4 separate regions of the Homo sapiens genome follow, and regions 2, 3 and 4 are each linked to region 1. The links come from fine-mapping of genetic effects on gene expression. A gene starts in region 1. Each other region holds a variant in brackets. All regions are shown on one strand. Distances are from middle to middle.

Region 1 (5,144 bases):
TCTTGGGTTCCTTGAAGGGGAATTCCAGCCACCTAGCTAGCCCTGAGAAATACATGAGCAACTTGGGAAGCAAGAAGTTAATAGTGGCGAGAAACAATAGTCAAGAGAGTTAGAGTCAGGAATTCATTGCTTCCCTGTAGAAACTAAAGACAACATCGTAACAAACGACCCGGAGTTGTTTTTCAGAACCTGGACCCCCACCAAATGGATCTGTTGACTTACAGACCTCTGATATGGGGGAGCGGAGAGCTGAACTCCACCACCGTTCTTTGTTCTTTGTTTTTTGAGACAGAGTCTCACTCTGTTGCCCAGGCTGGAGTGCAGTGGCTCAATCTCAGCTCACTGCAACCTCCGCCTCCTGGGTTCAAGCGATTCTCTTGCCTCAGCCTCCCAAGTATCCTCCTGAGTACAGGTATGCACCACCACACCCGGCTAATTTTTGTATTTTTAGTAGAGACGGGGTTTCGCCATGTTGGCCAGGCTGGTCTCGAACCCCTGACCTCAGGTGATCCACCTGCCTCAGCCTCCCAAAGTGTTGGGATCCACCCCTCCGGGCCCACCACTGTTCTTTGTTCTAAATTTCTTCCTGAGGGGCCTGGAGGAGGTCATGCCCACAGGCCAGAGCTAACATTCTTTTTTGCTGATCTCAAATTTTTTGACAAAGCCTTGCCTTCTTAACCAATCACAAATCAGAAAACCTCTGAATCTACTACCTATATGACCTGTGGGCCCCCAGTTCAAGATGTCCTAGCTTTTTAGGTCAAACCAATGTGCAGCCTCCAGGTATTATTCATGTGGGACTTAGCCTGTAACCTCTGCCTCTCCACCTTGAAAAACCCTCCCCCATCAGCCATCGGGGAGTTCAGGTCTGAAGTGTGAGCTGCCAGGTTCTGCTCGCCTGGTGCCCTGCTCTAAATGCCTCACTTCCTCTCACTGCAATCCCGACGTCCATGTTTGGCTTTGCTGCGGGAGGGCAGAGCCAGGCTGGGTTTGGTGACAAACGCTGAGTGCTCACCAAGTACCAAGCCCTGTTCTCGGGGCTGGGGTGCAGAGCGAACAGGCAGAAAGAAGGTCTCTGCTCTCATGGGGCCTACGCCTCGGTGGGGAGAGACTGACAATAAATGAAATAAACGTCTAAGATATGAAGTACATTGGATCGTGGTTAGTGGGATCGAGAAAATACAGCAGGGGAGGGCTTTAGGGGGAGGGAGACCTGCTGTCAAGGTGATGTTTGGGTGCCGAACACCCCGACGTTTGGGTGATGGAATGAGATGCTCAGAGACATCAGAGTTGCTTGGTTCCAGGCCCATGGACCACTCAAGGCCCTGTCTCAAATCTCCAGGCTTCAGGACACGCTGCTTTACATGGAGGCGGGCTCTTCATCTGGGCCTCTGAACAAGGCCTGAGACAGGACGCAGGCAAATAGCATGAGGCACGAGACTGTAGTCCGGGATGGAGAGTCAGAGTGAGTCTGAGGATGAGTGCAGATGCCTGCAGGGCAAGCTCTGCTGAATTGCTTTGCTATCTAGTTTTTATTACAGTCATTGAATCGGGGTGTCTCCCATTATCTGATGACAATTTTATGATGAAAAGAAACCATGCTGGCTTTGTTCGGTCATGGAGATGGGAAAGGTCCGCATATTCAGCAATCTGTTGAATTCTTCCAGGTTAAAACTGGAGCTGAGAAAAACCTGCAGCTGCCTGTCCCTCCCTTCACCTCTTCCAGCGAGAGGCAGTGGGGGACTGGAGAGCTGATGAAATGGCAGAGATAAAGGTTGTAAATTAGTTTTCCCTGAAGCCGACCAGCCTGAGCAACAGGATAAAGGTCGTTATTACAGACAGCCCCCGGCCTTTGGAGTTCACAGTTTCTCCATTGCTAGGAGATGGAACTCTCTGGAACCCTTCTCCAGCTCCACAGAGAGGCTCAGGCTATCAGAGGATCTGAGCGGTTGTAGGCTGCAGGCACAAGTTAAAAATAATCACCTAACGTTTTGACAGCACTTTCTTTTTTTCTGTCCCACAGAGATTGGAAGTCATTTTCTTATCCTCTTTAGGAAGTATGTTGGATTCAGGATTCTTAATTCCCATTTAAAGTCAGGACAATTGAGATAACTGTATCAGCTAACATTTACTGGGTGTTATGTTATACTTGCTAATAATAATCATAGCTAACATTTACTGAGTGATAATTTTTCTTAATAGAAAATAGCAGCATTTACTGAGTGCCACATATTTTCCAAGTACTGCCTGAAGAGCCTTGGATCTGTCCTCTAATTTATTGTTACAGCCCTGAGGAGGAGGAACTATTAACCCCCATTTTGTGGATGAGGAATTCGAAAACTAAGAGAGATCAAGTAATTTGCCTAGGAGCACAGCTGGTGAATGTTGGAGAAAGTATGAAGCGGTAAATATTACTTAAATCACATAGCAAATATAGCTGTGACTGCAATTCTAGGGTGTGTGTCTCTGTGTGTCCACGTGTATTTGGAGTAGATCGGATAAACTTTGGTCTTGGGTAAACTGAGGCATGTCTGGCGAAGGGGCTGACTCTTTTCTATCCCATTGAGAACATCCTCCTGGTGCTGGGGTGGGGGTATATGTGGGATGGTGTAATTGCGCAGCGTACCTTGTAATTAATTCCGTAGCTTTCACTGACGTCCGAAAGGATTAGAGAGAAAAATGTGGTCAGCGCTTAATATGGAGGGCACAGTGGGTGTGCTGCTTTCTCTTTTCCATCCCTCTGTCAACTTCATTCTCTTTTGGGGGCAAACAAGACTCAGATCTAAACAGAGTTTATGGTTTGTTTTGCATTTTGTATTTATTAATATTTATGCCGACTTTGAAGGTGCTGACCAGAAGGCATCAGTAACACACACACGCACACGCACACACACCACACACCATGTCTGTTTGGTTTGATTCTGAGCCTGAGATCCTGGAAATATTTCAGCTGTTGTTAAGAGGCTGGAGTTAGGACCCAGGAAGGACACAGCAGTGGGGATATAAATAGAAAAGGAGAACAGAACAAAGTTTGAGGAGAGAGACTTACATCACTCACTCCCCCTCCACCCAGAGAGCAGGACGGAGGTGTGAACTTGAGCCAGACCAGAAGGAGCTCGAGAGCGGCCGCAGGACAAGCCCGAGGAGCAGGCGGGCGCTCCAGGGGAAAACCACGCACAAAACCTTCTTCAGAGAAAAGGGAAGCTCCAAACCTGACTGAGACAAACGGAGGCTCTTGAAATAAAAAGAAAATACCGCAGGACAAACAGCCTCCCGTCCCCGGGCGCAGGTCGCGGTCACAGTGGTGACCTGGGATTGCTTTCCCAGGACTGCGAGTCGGGTTTGGGTTTCTCCTCCCTGCATTCCACAGCTGCTCTGGTCATCGCAACGTGTTTATTGATCACTGAAGAATCTCAAGTTTTGAGACGAGGAAGAAACACCCATTAGGTCTCCAAGACAGCTGTGTTTCACAAACTTTAAGGAGACAGAAATTTTCTCCCCTGGAACCTGTGAAAATGTCCCTTTTCCAAGGAAGTGAAGGTTAAGAGGTCCCGTTCTCACAGACCCTCAGGAATTTCACTTGGCTCCGAGCTTTGACCTCCGAGAGAGCCATGGAAAAGCTGCTGCGGCTGTGCTGCTGGTACTCCTGGCTGCTGCTATTTTATTACAACTTTCAGGTAATGTCCCCAAGTGGCCAGGATGGCGACAGGCTTGGTTTCTCCGGAGGCTTTCCCTGAGTGTGTCTCACACTGTGGTCTTTTGTGCGCAGGTGCGTGGCGTCTACTCCAGATCGCAGGACCATCCAGGTAAGAGTGTTTCCTTCTCACTCTGAGCACCGCTCTCCCCCTGCCTAGTGCAGGTATCTCAGGAACAGCCCACTTGTTCATCTCTGAGGCATCAGCGAATGGCCCTTGTTGGGCTCCTGGTCCCCGACCTCACTGCCTCACCACACACTGTGACCCTGGGCAGCTCTGCTACCCCTCACCGGCTGAGCGGTGGATGGAGAAGTGGTTCTGGGCCCCTTGAGCTGGGTCATATGAAACATTGTGATTAAGGAAATATGATCTTCATTTGAATGCCTTCTGCCTCTTTCTTTCTCTCTTTCTCTCTTTCTTCCTTTCTTCCTTTTTTTCTTTTTGAGATGGAGTCTTGCTCTGTTGCCCAGGCTGGAGTGCAGTGGCCGCAACCTCTGCCTCCCGGGTTCAAGCAATTCTCCTGCCTCAGCCACCTGAGTAGCTGGGATCACAGGTGTGCACCACTACACCCAGCTTTTTTTTTTTTTGTATTTTTAGTAGAGACAGGGTTTCACTATGTTGGCCAGGCTGGTCTCGAACTCCTGATTTCAGGTGATCCGCCCGCCTTGGCCTCCCAGAGTGCTGGGATTACAGATGTGAGCCACCACACCCATCTCATGTCTTCAGGGCAGATTCACTGGTGGGGAGTTGGAGCTCTGGCCCATAGCAGGGTCTCGGGACCTCCAGCCTCAGAGTGCTGACCAGCTTAGCCTGGAGCAGCCGATGAGTGGGACTCGGGATAGAGGGCCACCCTTGCTCCAGCCCCAGAGCCACATTCCATTGGCCATTGTGACACCCAACCAGGAAGCATCAGGACGGGGCTTCTCTCGGGAAGACAGGGAGGCACACACCCTTCGCTGTTAAGAGTGTGGGCACACGTTCTGGTCAGCCAGGGGCAGGGATGGGAAGACGAGGCTTTCTGGGAGCAGCAGGCAGTCACTGGGCTGTTGCTCCCTGCTGGAAGTTGCAGGAGGTGGGGAGGAGACCCTGCTAGTGCCTGAACCCCTGCTGGGAAGCCTGTTGTGAGCACAGCCTCTGCCCCCGCCCCACCAGAGCTTGGCTGGGCACCCCCCCGAGCGCTATTGTATGGCCCTGCCTGTCTCTGATGGGAAATCAGCCTTTTTAAAAAAATTATTTTTGTTTTTATTTTTTGAGACAAAGTCTCACTCTGTCACCCAGGCTGGAGTTGAGTGGTGAGATCTCAGTCTCGGCTCTCTGCTACCTCTGCCTCCCGGGTTCAAGCGATTCTTGTGCCTCAGCCTTCCAAGCAGCTGGGATTACAGGCCCATGCCACCACGCCTGGCTAATTTTTGTATTTTTAGTAGACACAAGGTTTTGCCATGTTGGCCA
Region 2 (5,144 bases), 140 kb after region 1:
AGGTTGTAGTTTCTGAGTCAGAGGAGTCCGTGTCCTGAAACCAACTGCAGGCTTTTCTGGGCATTTCTAAATCTAGCTATGGGTGGGAAAGGAAGGGCACCGTGGGGGCACACCACGCCTTCCTGAGGCAGGAACGGCAGTGCAGCCTCCGCCCAGACCCATGGTTCTAGGCCCCGTGCCCCGCGGTTACCCAGCCAGGTGCAGCCTTGAGCCTCTCAGATGGGCCCTGGCTCCAGGGAAGGGCACAGGGCGGGCAGTGGCAGGGGCCTGAATTACACGGTGTTGCTGGGAGCTGTGAGAACCACTCTGAGCTGTATTTGCGGTCCCGAGGGTGTGTCACAGGCGGGACTGTGCCAACTGCAGTGCCGGCAGCCGCAGCATGTACAGCTCAAGTCAGAAACAGGCTCCCTCCACGGGGTCTCTGTGTGAATGTTAGCCAGACCACCTCCCAATAACACCTCCTGCATGCAGCTGGGGTTAGTAGTGGCCCCTCTGCCTCCCAGCCAGCTGGACACACAGGTCCCTCCCAGTGATGTGCCAGGTGGCCTTGGGCAGGTGCCTGCTCTGAGCCTCAGTTTCCCCGCTGTGACATGGGTGGGACCCTTTCCTTGTGGAGCTGTGGTGGTGATGAGGAGGCAGAAGTAAGCACAGCTCAGGCCCAAGCACCCAGCCTCAGCAGCACCCAGCCTCAGCACCCAGCCCTGAGCACCCAGCCTCAGCACCCAGCCCTGAGCACCCAGCCTCAGCACCCAGCGTCAGCACCCAGCCTCAGTCCCCAGCCTCAGCACCCAGCCTCGGCACCCAGCCCTGAGCACCCAGTCTCAGCACCCAGCCCTGAGCACCCAGCCTCGGTACCCAGCCCTGAGCACCCAGTCTCAGTACACAGCCTCAGTACCCAGCCTCAGCACCCAGCCCCAAACACTGCCTGACAGAGTGAAGTCACAGTGAGCCATGAGTATGAGGTCCCTAGGGATGTCCTGGCCCTGAGGACCCCTGAGAGTGGAGTGGGAGTGGGGTGGGGTGGAGCAGGCCTGGCTACTGCACCTGGGACTGCAGCCATCCCAGCATTGACCCGTTCATGGCCACAAGTCTCCTTCCATTCACTCTTCATAAGGAAGGTTCAGTCCTGTGGCTGTGGGCACCGGGGCAGGACGGTCTATTGCCCTGTTGATGGGGGTGGGGGTAACTGTGGAGGCTGGAGGGGCTCCAAGGAGAGGCCCCTCCACCCATCCCTGGACCCCTCTAATCCTGGAGGCAGAAGAGGGTCCTGCCTTGCCCAGGAGTAACAAGGAAGTTGGTTTGTTCAGCAGCGCCCCCCCGACTCCCCAAGCAATACTGTGGTTCACCAGTGTCTTCTGGCTGAGTGGGGAGGGCATGCATCCTCAGTACCATCCTCTTAGAGACCCAGAAAATTGTCACCATCCCTTCTGATTTCCCAGCCTGTGCAGTTCTTCCAGAAGGAGAGGGTGGTGGGCAAAGCCTGCTGGGTCCTTCTGCATGGGCTCCTTACCATTCCACCAGCAAGCCCTCCAGGTGCACGGGTGCACGCTGTTCCCGCCCCGCCTTACAGATGAGTTTTCCTGAGCCCTGTCCTGGGCTGCTGAGAGCTGGGCTGGGGATGGGAGCTGGGAGCTCACCCGGGGGAGGCGCAGGGGCATGCGTCCTTCCACCCCCTCCCGTCTCCTGCCCTACCCACCCCTTCCCATGCCCCTCCAGTCTCCCTCGAGACGCCCCCTCTCAGCCCCCAGGGCCCTCCCCTGTACCCTGTGGCCTGTGCCTCTCTGAGTGGAGAGCTGAGTGAGCCCTGGGAACAGGGCTGACACCTGCCACCCCCATCTCTCCCTTCAGTCCCCCCGACTCTCAGGCTGCTGGCCACCTGGGACATTGGGAAATGGGCCTAAGAGGTAAAAACCTGCACTTCGAGGTGGAGCAGCAGCCAGTTGCTGCCGGGACTCAGCTTTGCTGTCAGCTCAGCCCCAGCCCTGCCTGGGCACCTTGCAGTCCTGGGGGCAGGGAGACGTAGCTTCAAGGTTCTGAGGGTTCCACCCCTGCCCCTCTTGACAAATTCAATTGCCGTTGCCTCCTCCAACCAGACCCAGGCTGCTCCTTTTAGAGGAGAAGCATATGTTGCTTCATTTATTCCCTAATTCTCCTGAAGAAGTGTCTGCTCTGGAGTGTGCTGGGCTGGAGCCGCTCTGCAGAGGGAGCTGCAGCAGCCTCTGGGGTGGTCCTGTCTTGGGGGATCTTCTTTCGGGGCTACCCTCAGAATTGGGGTCTTACTCTGTGGGGCTGAGGGTGGGCCGGGTGACCAGGACTGGGAACATGGTCAGGGGCCAGACTGGACGTTCCCAGGGCAGATGGACGCATAGCCCGGCCGAGGGATCGGGTCGCTTTGCGGGGCAGCTGTGGGCTGCAAGGCTGTGGTCAGGGCTTGACGTCTGAAGCAGGCCAGGTTTCTGGTCAACACGTATTTTTTGTCATGAGTGTGTTGAATCTTGGGAATTAGAGTGGGGATGTGGGCCGTCTTTGAGAAGCCGCCAGCCCCCGTGTTAGGAGTGGGACAGGAGCTCGAGGGTTCTTTTTGGGACATACAGGAAGCTGGGGTGTCAGGAGACAGAGGGGTTCTGTAGGTTGAATTGTTTGTAAAGATGATACACGCATGTGGGAAAATGCAAGAACACAGAAGGCAGAGTGTGGAAACTGAC[G/A]GTCACGGCCACCGTTCCCGCCTCCCAGCCCTGCCCAGAGCAGCGGCTTAGGGTCACGGCCACCATTCCTGCCTCCCGGCCCTGCCCAGAGCAGCGGCCTAGACACGCGCTTGCTTTTCTGTCATTCCAGACGCAGTTGCTGAGCCTGGGGCCCCGCTTTGCTCTTTGTTCTTTTTTTGTTTGTTTTTAAAATTTTCTGTACCTCAATGGATGCAAACCTTCCTTTAAACAAAGGGTAGTGAAGCATAAAGACTGCACCCTTTATTTTTATTTACAATTTATTTGTGTTAGAGACAAGGTTGCACGCTGTGGTCCAGGCTGGAGTCAGTGGCGCCACCTTGGCTCACTGCAGCCTTGACCTCCTGGGCTCCAGAGATCCTCCTACCTCAGCCTCCCAAGCAGCTGAGACTAGAGGTGTGCACCACCATGCCTGGCAAGATAGCACACTTTAAAAAATGTATGCACGTATCTTGGAGGTTGCTCCTTCTCAGGGTACACAGAGCCACATCTCCCGTGTTAACCACTGCATAGCTCTCCCGCGGGTGGACACTGAAGTCATGGTGGTCTTTGGCCGCAGCAAATAACCAGCATCCTATGCACACATCCCGCCTCCATCTGTGAGGATGGGTTCCCGTGGGGCACTGCTGGTCCAGGTTTACATCCCGCCTCCATCTGTGAGGATGGGTTCCCGTGGGGCACTGCCGGTCCAGTTTTATATCCCGCCTCCATCTGTGAGGATGGGTTCCCGTGGGGCACTGCCAGTCCAGGTTTACATCGCCACAACTGTTTAAAGCAGCCATCGTCTGGGGCACAGTGGGGACTCAGCCCTGAGTTCCCAGTCATGTTGAGTCCTGGGTTCTGCTCTGAGATCCACCTGCCTCCTGCTGCCCGGCTCTGCCTCCCACGGCCGACCACTGTGCTGAGTTGCAGGTCTGTCACTTGGGGCAGGTGATGGGAGGGGAGGAGGCCCAGCAGCTCTTCTCTCGCCCCTACACGTGGCTTTTTGGGCAGTGGCCACGCCTCTGCTGTGGCTGCAGCCCTGCTGGACAGTCTATGGATCTGGCTTCCACGGGGGGATTTGTGGCGAGGCTCATTCCTGGGCCACCTCACTACCCCTATGAGGTCCCCCTTTCTCTCCCCTCCCGAGGGTTAGCAATTCCCTGAGTCAAATGTTCCACTCTTTGAAAGGCTGGAGTGGTTTCTGTTTTCCCAGATGGCCCCAGACTGATGCACAAGCTGTGCGGCCAGGGGAGACAGCAGGAGCCCCCAGGGTTCCTGGTCTGGAAAACAAGAGGGTGATGGTCCCCCCAGCTGACACTTTCAACAAGGTCACTGTGACCCGAGGCAGGCCAGTCCCAGCATCTGTTCAAACACACAGCAGCCCAGCTGGGTCCTCGGGGAAGATCTCCTGCCTGTGGCCAGTCCTCTCCCGTCCTGCAGCACCCCTCAAGTGGCCAAGCAGCTCATTTCTACCTGTCCCCGGGCTGTCGGTTCATTTCCATCAGTGGACGTGAAATGTGCCAGCAACTGGACCCAGCCCGGGGGAGGCTGGCTGCATGCTGCTGGCACATGCTACGGCTGCCTACGGCCAGGGATGGCCGCCAAACCAGGGATGCCTGGAGTCACAGATCCGCCAGGGCCTGGTCACTCGTGCTGTCCAGGAGCCAAGGGCAGGAGTGCAGCCCAGCCAGGGGCTGAGGGCTGCCCTGAGGGGAGACAGGCCCCGTGAGAGCCTGGATGCCAGCCGCGGAGAGACCAGAGACAGGCAGGAGCCAGCCTGGCCGGGACAGGGTGGGCGTCAAAGGTTGGGGAGCAGATGGTTGGTTCAAGGGCTGGTGTGGGGGTGGAGTGTGGACCTAGCCCGGAGTTCCTGCTCTTGTGCCCGGGAGCCCATCCTCTGCTCACCCTGCTCTCTGCCCTACGCTTGGCTTCCTGCCAAGTCCAACCAAGGAGAGATGGTGCTGCTGGGGTGGGCGAAGGGGCCAGCCTCCTGCCTGGGCTCCTGCTGGCATGGGCGTCCCCCTGTGGCTCCAGCGCCTGCATGCAGACCCTCCCCTGCACCCCCGCGCCAGCCTCACCTGGGCAGGCTGGTCTGGTTCCAGTTTCTGCTGGTGGCCCGGCCTGGCTCTGCTGCTGTCCCCTCTCCCACTGTCCTCCCGCGGTGGCCGCTGTCTGGGCCTCACTTCCTTCTCCCGCAGTGGCTGCTGTCTGGGCTGCCTCACTGCCTTCTCTGCTTTTTCAGGGCTTCCCTCACCTTCATAACCAGCTCCCCAAGTCCAATCCCGAGCGGGGAGGGTCTTGCTTTCCCATGATGAAGGGAGAGGGTGGATGGAGGCAGGTCAGAGGCACGGGCTGGGGCTGGAGCATGCGGGGCCTCAGAAGCCATGGTGGGGGAATGGGGGTTTGAGTCTGAGACTCAGGCGCTATGGAGGGGGTGAG
Region 3 (5,144 bases), 39 kb after region 1:
TGGCTCTTGAAGTCCCTGGAAGGCCTGTGTGGGGCCCCGTGTACCACTGCTCAGTGAGTCTGACACAGCCGAGTTCAGGGCAGCCATGCAGAGTGACAACTGGAACTGAAATCCAGTCTGCTCCCAGCCAGGCCGGGCCTCGGTGGGGACATGGCCACACAAGTAGGTAGAAGTCTTTCTTTACATGAAGACCTGTCTGCATTTGAAGCTGTGCTGGGGCTGTAGGTGCCCAGAGGGGGCTTTTTTCTGAGTGACCTGGGCAGAGGTGACACCTCCTCTAATCTCATGAGCCAGAGCTGGCACCATTTGCTGACCGGTCCGTCCAGGTGTGGTGGCCTTTCCTGATACAAAGGCACAGTGCTGACCGTCTGTCACCCTGGCCAGGTGTCCCCTCTCCCTTACCACTGGAATGGACAGCAGCTCTTTCTGTAGAGGAGGAAGAAGGTTATGTTCAGATACGTGTAATCGGAAAGCATGTACCTTTGGGCACTGGAAACACACTCAACACGTGGGAACTGGGACCGACTGAGGACCTGGCAGATTCTCATTTTCACCCCAGTCTCCATGGTCATCGCTTGCAAGCGTTGGCAGGATCGCTGGACCGATTTTCACTATCCCTCACTCTGCTTTGTGGACACACACGAGTTAAATGTGAGTTTGACATGACTCCTCTGTAACTCATTGGCACCTGAGGAGTGAATGTCACTCTGACTTGGAGAACAGAGCGGTTCTGGGGTCCAGTTCTCTCGGCAGCGCCACACCTTCTGCGTTCACCAGCAGCCCAACCCCACCCAAACCCAAGGGCTCAGTCACTCCTGCAGCCAGCAAGGGGTGATGATGTCATTTCCTCAGCTCATCCAAAGCAACTTCAAGAGATTTTCCAAAAATGAAGTAGAATATCTGGTTAAGTGTGTGTTCTCATCAGGAAATAGTGGGATTAGAAATAGTTGGGGGTGAACAGGCAGAGAACAGCAAATCATGGCTTAGTCTTCAGCCTTAAATGTCTTCATTGTTTGTAATAATTCATCATTAACCCCATGGGGGCTGAGTGCAAAGAATAGCTGGAATCCTTGGGCTAGAGGGGGCTCAGGAAGACAGTTTTCTCCACTGCTTTACTGGGGCCTATTCTCACTTCATCGATCTCAGAGGAGAGCGCTCCCAGGGCTCCTGTCTGTGCTGGCCCAGCGAGTTGTAGCACTCCTCATTTTATCTCCAACCAGTCTGGATGCAATTGAAATCTATTTCTTTTGGTTCTTTATTTATTTGAAATCGGTAATCCTTGTATAAAATCATCTTTTGATATGCTGACTTGCATGAAGGGTGTTCAAAAGCGATTGAGAATACAAATGGAAAAGTAATGTGACCTGGGAAAATCTATACGGTCGACTCAGTCAGCTGATTTCTTAGCCCATAATTTATCTCCAGCAACATTCCTACTCAAAACATTCTCAGACTCTCTTCCATGTGTCTGAAGCCAGTACATTTTTAACAAGGACAGGTCTTCCTCGTGGTGAAAAAAGTGACCATGTTTTAGTCCTTAATCCAGCATTGTTTCTTCCAGGAAAGCATGCTTTATTGTCTTCAACGCTGCCAAGCCTCTTCATGACATCCACAGCAAGCCCCGTGGTGAGCAGACACATCTTCCTTGGTCCCCCTTGCTGATGTTCTTCTGCTTGGGCTGTTTGCTGGGAGAGAGAAAATTCCATTAGGTGTCTGGGCTCTCTGTTATCGGCAGTACATTGTCTGGGAAGAAATAACAAATGGAGGGGAAGCCAACTGCAGTACTAATTCTTGGTGCTAAGAGTGACTGAAGGGAAAACTCTCAACTCCTGCCACCAGGAACCTCAGGTGCCCAAAAGGAAATACCGGGCTCATTCATGGGACGTGGGCGCCGTGAGTGGGGAGTGAGGAATCTGCCCTGCTTGGCTTCTCTCTATGCCCTTTTCGTTTGATGTTAGAGAAAAGTTCAATTCATATAGAAAAATTCTTGTCTGGAATTAGTGTTTGTAGTTAAAGAACTGTCCTTTCTTGAGAACGTTAATATAATAGTGAGTGCACAGACTCTGACCCATCTGCTTGGGTTCAAATCCAAGTTCTACCACTTATTTTTGAGTAAGCCTCTCTGCGCTTAGTGTCATCCATCAAATGGGGACTTATTTTGTAAGGTTGTTGTGAGGATGAAATGTTAATATAAGCAAAATATTCACAAAAGTGTCAGATACATGGTAGG[A/T]GCTATATTACTATCATGGTATAAAAACATTTGACCAGCTGGGTGTGGTGGTTGCACCTGTAGTCCCAGCTGCTCAGAAAGCTGAGACAGGAGGACTGCTCGAGTCCAGCCTGGGAAACACAGTGAAACCCCATCTCTATAAATAAAAAAAAGAGCAGCCAGGCACAGTTGCTCATGCCTGTAATCCCAGCAATTTGGGAGGTCGAGGCAGAAGGATCACTTGAGGTCCGGAGCTCGAGACCAGCCTGGCCAACACAGTGAAACCCTGTCTCTACTAAAAATACAAAAATTAGCCAGGCATGGTGGTGCACGCCTGTAGTCTCAGCTACTTGGGAGGCTGAGGCAAGAGACTCGCTTGAACCCGGGAGGCAGAGGCTGCAGTGAGCCGAGATTGCGCCACTGCACTCCAGCCTGGGCAACAGAGCAAGACTCAGTCTCAAAAAAAAAAAAAAAAATTAAAAAAAGCATTCGACCCAGAGTAGGACACATTAAACTTCTGTATAATATTTTGGTTTTAGTTCTTAGTAGAAACTCATGTTGCCAATTTCTTTCAGATGCCCACAGATGCCTACCATCCCATCATAACCAACCTGACAGAAGAGAGAAAAACCTTCCAAAGTCCCGGAGTGATACTGAGTTACCTCCAAAATGTATCCCTCAGCTTACCCAGTAAGTCCCTCTCGGAGCAGACAGCCTTGAATCTCACCAAGGTAAGGCTATTTGATGTCTGTGTCTGGTGGACCGGGCGTGGCACCCTTACCGGGACCATAGATGTTTCTGTTTGACCTAGATCGAGTTTAAAAAAAGCAGGAACTTTTACTGAAACGTTTGGGTTTCAGGCTTCTCATGAACAACCAGCTGGTGTGGCCCTCCTGGCCAGCTCTGTACAGCTCAGCGGAGCTTCCTTTATGGGCACTTGAGTCTTTGCTGTGGTTTCCCAATGCCCAACCTGCCTGGTCCCCCCTGTGCAGCCACCTGGCCCCCGCGGGCGTGTGGTTGGCAACTCCTAGACTAAATAAACTCTGCTGCCTCCTGGCAACAGGTAAAAGGTGGAGAGGCCTCACTGGCAGATCCAGCCGTGGGGCGTGGGCCACAGCCTGTGCACAGTGGGAGTCCCCAAAGCTATCTAAACACTTAGAGAATGCAACATTTATGGCATTAAAATCAAGATGGTTTCTCTTTCTGCTCCTCCAAATAGTTTCCAGGTGAAGGCAGAGGGTGGATCGTGGGCTCTCGTGGACTTGCTGTCTTCTGTTTTAGGGCTAGGGCTTATCTTGGTGGATGCGAAGACAGAAGGGGTTTTGAGATTGGCTCACCTTGAAAGCACAGCATATGGGTTAGGAGCAGGGTATATGAAGTCCCACGGCTGCACTGACCTTTGATCTGCAGTTACTCTGTGTCCTTGGTCAAGTGACCTAACATCTCTGCCTCACTTGGCTCCTGAGATGTGGAGGAAATAATAACAGCGCCCACTTCATCGGGGATAAGTGGGTTCCTATGTGCACAGAACAGTGCTGGGTACGTGGTGAGCACTTTTCAAGGGTTCTTAATTCTTACTGATTTCCTTGCTGAAGTCACACCCAAAGAAGCACATGCAGAGCCATGTGTTCAGGGACTTGAGACATCTTGGAATGGAGGGAGGTTGCCCTCAGCTTTTCTGTCCACGTAAGAGAAGTTAGACTTCTCAGATTTCATTCATTCATTCATTCATTCATTCATTCATTCATAGACCATACTAGATTCTGGGAGTGCAGGATGACCAAGTGCTAATACTCCCTGCTTTCAAGAGGCTCAGGGTTGAGGGAGTGATGACAGGTCATGGAGTCTGAGAGGGGCTTTAAAGGGAACTACATGGAGCTGCGGGACTCAGCGGTCCTGGAGTCACAGAGACCTGGCTTTGACCCCAGCTCCACCACTCCCGGCTCTGTGTCCGTGGGAAGGTTATTTAACCTCAGCACACCTGCTTCCCACTGTGACATGGGGACAGTGAGATCGCCCATGTGTCTCAGGTACTTCTGGCTGTGAGAAACAGGGCCCTCTGCTTAGCGGACTTAGACTTCAGGCCATGTACTCGCTTCAGGCAACAAGAGGCCCAGAGGCGGGAATCCTAGGAGTCACTAACTCAGTCTTCACTCACAGCAGGGGCTGGATAGGCACCGCCACAATTCTCTCGGCACTCGGCCCTTTTCTCGCCCAGCTGCAGGCCCCCAGCACCCTCGCCTTACCCTGGCACGTCCAGGAGGGAAAGAACGGGTCGGGAGACTCCCTCCTCGTCAGGGGGAAATCTTTCCCATGGTTCCCTTTGCTGAGACACCCCCTCACATCTCAGTGGCCAGAGCTGGGCCACATGACCACACCTGGGCCAATCACTAACCAAGGGGAGTGGGATTAGCAACCAGCTCAGCCAATCATGAAGGAGCTCTAGGGTGGGGCCAAGGCTGCCCAGTGTGGGAGCGCTTCCGGGCTCCGAAGGGAAGGACCCGCGGGGTGTTGGGTGGAAAGAGCGGGTATAGACAAGCTGGAAGGTCCTTATGCATGTATGCACAGGACCGGGCGTGAGGCCCCGAGACAGGGCTTGGTATGCAGTAAGTGCTTTATTAATACGAACACTCTTGTTTTTGTTGAGATGGGCTACAAGGGGTGACTGTGGCAGGCGGTGCCTTCTATGCAGTTAGCACTTAGTAAACACTCACACTCCGGGCACTAGTGCCCTGCCTGTAGCTAAGGTATGCAGTCGGGGCTTCATGCCCACTTGGCACTGGCACCCTCCCCTCTAGCCGTGGTACACAGTCGGCGCTCAATAAACACCCACTCTGGGCACGGGCGCCCTCCCGTCTGACTAGCCATGGGTACCCTGCAGCATCCTCAGGAATGTGCAGCAGACACTTAGCAGGCTCCCTCTGTGTTTCCGGGT
Region 4 (5,144 bases), 170 kb after region 1:
GAGTAAGGAGCTGGTCCTTTGCAGTCTCTCATCTCTCTCCCATCCTTCCCTGCAGAGGGAGCAGAGGACAGAGGCTGCTGTGCTCAGGGTGGCTGCACTAGAGCAGGCCCCGTGGATGATGCCCCACTTTCTGAATAACGAGAAGTGTGTTCTTTTCAGAAACAGATTCCCATTCGTGCAGGATCTGTTTCAAAGCTCACACGTGCGTGTGGAAGCAGAGCCATGTTTCCAGACAAATTCCGTGGATGGCTGAGCTTGAGGAGTGTTGCAATGCGATCTTCCTTTTGGAGAGTCATAAGACACATTAGCATACAAAACCTCTGCACTTTAAAAGTGAAAGTAGAGGCCAGTTCAGATTTGGGTTAGGTCAATTCCTACAAGTAGTGTGGCCATAGAGTGTTTTCGTTGCAGAATGATGAAGCTCTGGGGACTGCTGTGATCCAGATGCTTTCTACCTCATTCGTGGGCCTCCCTTCTATCACCACCCCCAAAGTCTCACTTGGCTTTGTCAAATATTAAACACATTTAATTTGTCACACTCAGTTTCAAGTAATAGAAATCCAACTTGAACTGGCTAAGGCAAAAAGGGAATGTGATGGCTCATATAACAAAAAAGTTCTAAGATGCTGGACTTCAGATATGGCTTGATCCATGAGCTTAAGTAATATAATCAAGATTTTGTTTTCTTTTTCCGTCTCTCAGATCTGATCTCTTGTGGTGCCAAAATGGCTGCCTGGACCCCAAGCTCACTGACATCCTTATCCTCTTAGGGGCTCCGTAGAAAAGAGAGTTTCTTCTCAGCAGTTTCGAAGAAAGCCCTTGATTGAGTCTCATTGGGCCAGCCAGGGTCACATGCCCATCTTTGAACCAATAGCTGTGGCTGGGGGATTTGATGTTCCAGTCAGCCAGTCCTGGGTCACATGCCTCAGAGCCAGGAAGGAACCAGCCCACCTGGACCTCATGGAAAGATGGAGTGTGATAGGTTCCCTAAGGAAATTATGGGCTCAAATACTGTAAGAATGTGGACTGTGTGCATGGCAAAGTCAGCCATGTCCGATGTCCCCTCAGTCCCAGCTGATCTCACACCTTTCCACCGCCGCTCTAGAACAGGGCTTCTCAACCAACACTATGGATACTTGGGCTGGGTGACTCTTGTGGGGCAGTCTTGTGCATTGTAGGGTGTTTAACAGAAGCCCTGGCCTCTGCCTGCCTGATTCCATCCCGTTATGACAACCCTAGATGACTTAAGCCATTGCCAGTTGTCTCTTGTGGGGCCACCTTGGCCCTGGTTGAGAACCACAGGTCTAGATAGACCAAGCTGAGCTTACCTTCCTGCCAGTCACAATGCCACATCTCACCCACATGGTTTGTTTTGATGAAGACTCATACACTTTGTTGTCTAGTACAGAAGTGTGAACATGTGAGTATGAGTGTGTGTGTGTTATTCCTTTGTTTAGACTAAAAGTTCTTTGAGGATAGGGGCTGTTCTGTGTCCCAACAATTAGCACATAGTTCCCCCTCTGTATACATGTATGAGGTGTACAAGGAATGAAGAAAGGAAGGGAGGGATGGGGGAGGCGGGAGGGAGGGAAGAAAACTGGAGCAAGTGAACATGATATTCTCCAATCTTCTGCAGGTTTTCCTCTTCTGATCTGCATCATTTCACTGTCATTTGCCATGGACAGTTACGGAACAAGCAACAAGTAAGTGCAGGGCTTTGCCTTGCTTTTGGCAGGCGTTCCATGGAACAGCTTGTGGCGAGAGCCCCGTGGCTCTTGCCTTCCTGTGCTCTTCTGGGTGCAGGGGTGCTGTGCAAAGCTGGCTCCCACAGGCCCAGCCGGTGAGAAAGTCGTGGTCCAGGGAGAGGGAGAAACAACCCAGCTGTGCTCTGGACATTTTGGGGCCTCGGAACTAGCAACAAAGACCACAGAGCGCCTCCAGGAATAGCAGGGGGCCTGCTAGGAGTTTCTGCTTGGAAATGTTTCACCCACGTGGTCTTCT[C/G]AGACACAGTTCTGGTCATCCACGGAGGCTGAATTGTGGCCCTTTCACCCTTTCTTGGGGTGGCCAGCAAGCGCACTGTGCAGACCGTGTGCCCAGTAACTCACAGGGAGCAGACACATGCATGTTGGAGTAAGTGGGGCCTGCTGTGCACCAGGCAGGTGGTCTTGAGGGTCCCATTGCTTGGGTAGTAGGGGATGGACCTTATGATGTCCAGTATCTCCTGTTGCCACTTGAAATGCAGCTCATGGGTCCACAGTTGTGTCAGGAAGAGGATGGGATGGTGCTGAGGGACCAGATCAGCTGTTCACGTTCCAGAAAGATGATTTTCTTTCCTTACAAGTAAAAGAGCTTTCACTCAAATGTTTCTTGGAAGCTGCTACCTGTCCTAGCCACGCTGAGAAACCACTGAGTGAAAACATGGAAAATAAATATTGACGGTGCTTACAAACAGAAAGGAAGTTGAGCATTTTCACAGCTTCAGAATGAGATAATAGTACAGACGAATAGTGAAACTGGGAGAAATCCAGCCTTTTCCACGTTGGTGCAGGTTCCCTGAAGGCGAAGCATTTGTAGAAGGCAGTGTCTGAGCGCACAGTGAAACAAGCATGGTTACGCAGACCACTGTTCTGGCCTTCCTTTCATTCTGGATGCTGTTAGAAGTTGAGGGACTAATTAGAAGAAGAATGTTCTCCTCAAACACAGCTCAATGGCATTTGTTCCCTTTTATCCCATCTGGAGCTTGGGGATGCTGGACCCACAGTCCTGAGTCCCGGGGTCTGACCGTAATACAAGCCTTTTCCCACACTCATGCCCGAAAGCCAGGCAGCACCAGCCAGGTTCAGGAAGCTCACCAGGTTTCTGAACAGGATAGAGTATCTACCAGAAGCCCCTCGTCGACTTAAAATTCTGCATGAAGTGCTGGAAAGCACAATCTCTCTCTTTGCAGAAGCATCCTACTCTCCGGAGAGCCTGGTTTGAATCGCACCTTTGCAGAGGTACCATTCAGACTTGCAGTGCATTTTCCTTTTAAACAGTGCATCCTCAGATGAGAGGTTTCTCCTCTCCGTGCTCTGGGTGTGCAGCCATGAATGAGCCTCTTGCAGGTGCTGTCTCTTGTTTTGGGGCATTTGCCATCTCCTGGTCCGGGAGGCTTTGGGGAGGAATGGGGGCAGGGAGGCAGTGTGCTGACAGTGATCTCTGAAGTCACCTGAGCTATTTAGGGCTCAGATTCCTCATCTGCAGGATTGGAGTGATCATAGCGCCCACCTCAGGGGCAGCATAGGATTAAATGAGATGATGGAGTTTGTTGTGCTGTGGGGCAGACCTGCTGCTCAGTGAGCAGTCACGGAGGGATGAAATAAGCCAGCCCCGGGGAGACACCACATTGGGTGCCAGTGAGGACTGCGCCACGCACCTGCCCAGATCCAATTAAAGGCACTCCAGGTCCTTGGGAAACAGTGTCCAGGAGTCAAGATGAGAGGTCCTAGGGACTCTTCGGCTCTTGACAGTGCCGTAGGCTCTGGAGATAAAATTGTGGAGGAGCTGGCTTTTTTTTGCCCGAGTTCTTGGGGTCACTTCTCAGAGGCCAGATCCTCAAACTGGACCCTCCTCTCAGGACATCAGAGCAATCACTAGGACCCTCTGGAACCTTTCCTCTCAGTTGGAGGGCACGGAGAGAGGGGAACTGACCTCGAGCTTTGGGCATATGGGAATGGTCAGGTGCTGCATCGCTGACGACTCATCAGGATGGGAATCCCTCACAGAAGGCCCCTATTGGGTCATACTTGAAGTGCTCTGCAGGAAAGCCAGTCCCCAGCAAAGGTCTATTTCCTAATGAAATTGAAATCTATTCTGGATTTTGGCTAAACTCTCCAGAGGTTGCTGTCCTGGTCTTCAAACCTGGAAAATCCTTTCCAAGAATGAGACGTGGGATCATCATGGATAAAAATACATTTGCAGGGATTAGGAATGTTGTATGACTGCCCCAGGTGGACCCTGTAGCTGAGAAAGACATCACCTTAGCAACTACTTTTGGATGAAGGTACGCTGGCAGGTGGAACGAGGTTGTTGAAGTAACGGCTCTGCTTCCCTCCGCAGTTGCTGGCTGTCGTTGGCGAGTGGCGCCATCTGGGCCTTTGTAGCCCCTGCCCTGTTTGTCATCGTGGTACGTTTCCTACCCTTGTGGGCGCAGAGCGGGGCTGGGGAGGGGCAGGAGGAGAGGGTGTGGGGCTCTGGAGATGGCGGGGGGCTCCCTGAGGAGCTTCCGAAGGATGCAGCGTCGTTCCTCGGTCACTCCTCGCTAGGGCTCCTCTGGGCCAGTGACTGAGGGTCTTATTTCCCGGAATGCTCAGGAAGGCGGTGCTTTCCAGGCGGGTCCACTCGAGGCCCCAGGGCTCTTCCAGTCGAGGCGGCAGGTGCAGGCACACAGCCCTGAGAACAGCACAGGCGCGGGCTCGTCCTTCCCCATCCTCCGGTGCCTTCTCACCCACCGGCTAGCTCCTTGCTCAGGAGTCACCAGGACTCCAAGGCTGCAGAGGGGAATCTCAGCAGAAGCCTCCTGGGAACCACACATAACAGTTACAGTTACAGTGGTTTGCAAGTGACAGAAAACCCAACTCAGAGTTTTTTGTTGTTGTTTTTGTTATTGTTTTTTTGAGACGGAGTCTCACTTTGTCTCCCAGGCTGGAGTGCAGTGGTGCGATCTCACTGCAACCTCTGCCTCCTGGGTTCAGGCGATTCTCCTGCCTCACTCTCCCAAGTAGCTGGGATTACAGCCATGCGCCACCACGCCCAGCTAATTTTGTATTTTTAGTAGAGACGGGGTTTCACCGTGTTGGCCAGGCTGGTCTCGAACTCCTGACCTCAGGTGATCTGCCCTCCTCTGTCTCCCAAAGTGCTGGGATTACAGGCGTGAGCCACTGTGCCTGGCCCCAACTCAGTGTTTAAACACGGATGGGGATTTACAGGTTCCTGAGTCAGGACCATCTGTGGGGAGGCTGGGCCCAGGGCTCCTGCACCTGCACTGGCATGAGGCTCGTCCCTCATCTTCTCTGCCTCCCCGGATGGAAACGGAGGCTTTTTCCCAGCACTCCCATCGCAAGTCCCAGGCTGGTTCTCATTGGCTGCGGTGAGTCATGTGTCCG

Alleles and levels. Positions count from the first base shown, and alleles are read on the strand shown. Sizes are in standard deviations (SD) of each study's normalised expression. Not every link is listed here.
For the expression in lymphoblastoid cells of the gene that starts at base 3,053 in region 1, A is the low allele of the variant in region 2 and G is the other (moderate effect, 0.69 SD a copy in GENCORD).
As copies of T replace A in region 3, the expression in prefrontal cortex of the gene that starts at base 3,053 in region 1 goes down (moderate effect, 0.44 SD a copy in BrainSeq).

Evidence for each region. PIP is the estimated chance that this variant, and not a neighbour inherited with it, causes the effect.
Region 2: its variant is the best candidate, but not a certain one, in a credible set for the expression of ADGRD1 in lymphoblastoid cells (GENCORD, PIP 0.71).
Region 3: its variant is the best candidate, but not a certain one, in a credible set for the expression of ADGRD1 in prefrontal cortex (BrainSeq, PIP 0.59).
Region 4: its variant is the best candidate, but not a certain one, in a credible set for the expression of ADGRD1 in testis (GTEx, PIP 0.51).

What each region holds. Positions count from the first base shown.
Region 1 is chr12:130,950,855-130,955,998 of GRCh38, forward strand. ADGRD1 (adhesion G protein-coupled receptor D1) reads left to right here and starts at 3,053. Exons shown (of 25, transcript NM_198827.5): 1 at 3,053-3,677; 2 at 3,770-3,806. The coding sequence starts at 3,612.
Region 2 is chr12:131,093,271-131,098,414 of GRCh38, forward strand. The region is part of intron 15 of ADGRD1 (adhesion G protein-coupled receptor D1); the gene reads left to right. Among named protein-coding and RNA genes, the nearest start is that of LINC01257, 69 kb to the right of the region's middle. The variant G/A (reference allele first, on the strand shown) is at 2,706.
Region 3 is chr12:130,989,453-130,994,596 of GRCh38, forward strand. ADGRD1 (adhesion G protein-coupled receptor D1) reads left to right here. Exons shown (of 25, transcript NM_198827.5): 7 at 1,562-1,626; 8 at 2,785-2,940. It overlaps ADGRD1-AS1 (ADGRD1 antisense RNA 1), which reads right to left and starts at 4,524. Exons shown (of 2, transcript NR_131951.1): 1 at 4,456-4,524; 2 at 1,174-1,685. RefSeq lists an enhancer at 336-505. The variant A/T (reference allele first, on the strand shown) is at 2,231.
Region 4 is chr12:131,116,749-131,121,892 of GRCh38, forward strand. It overlaps ADGRD1 (adhesion G protein-coupled receptor D1), which reads left to right. Exons shown (of 25, transcript NM_198827.5): 19 at 1,637-1,703; 20 at 4,099-4,165. Among named protein-coding and RNA genes, the nearest start is that of LINC01257, 46 kb to the right of the region's middle. The variant C/G (reference allele first, on the strand shown) is at 2,002.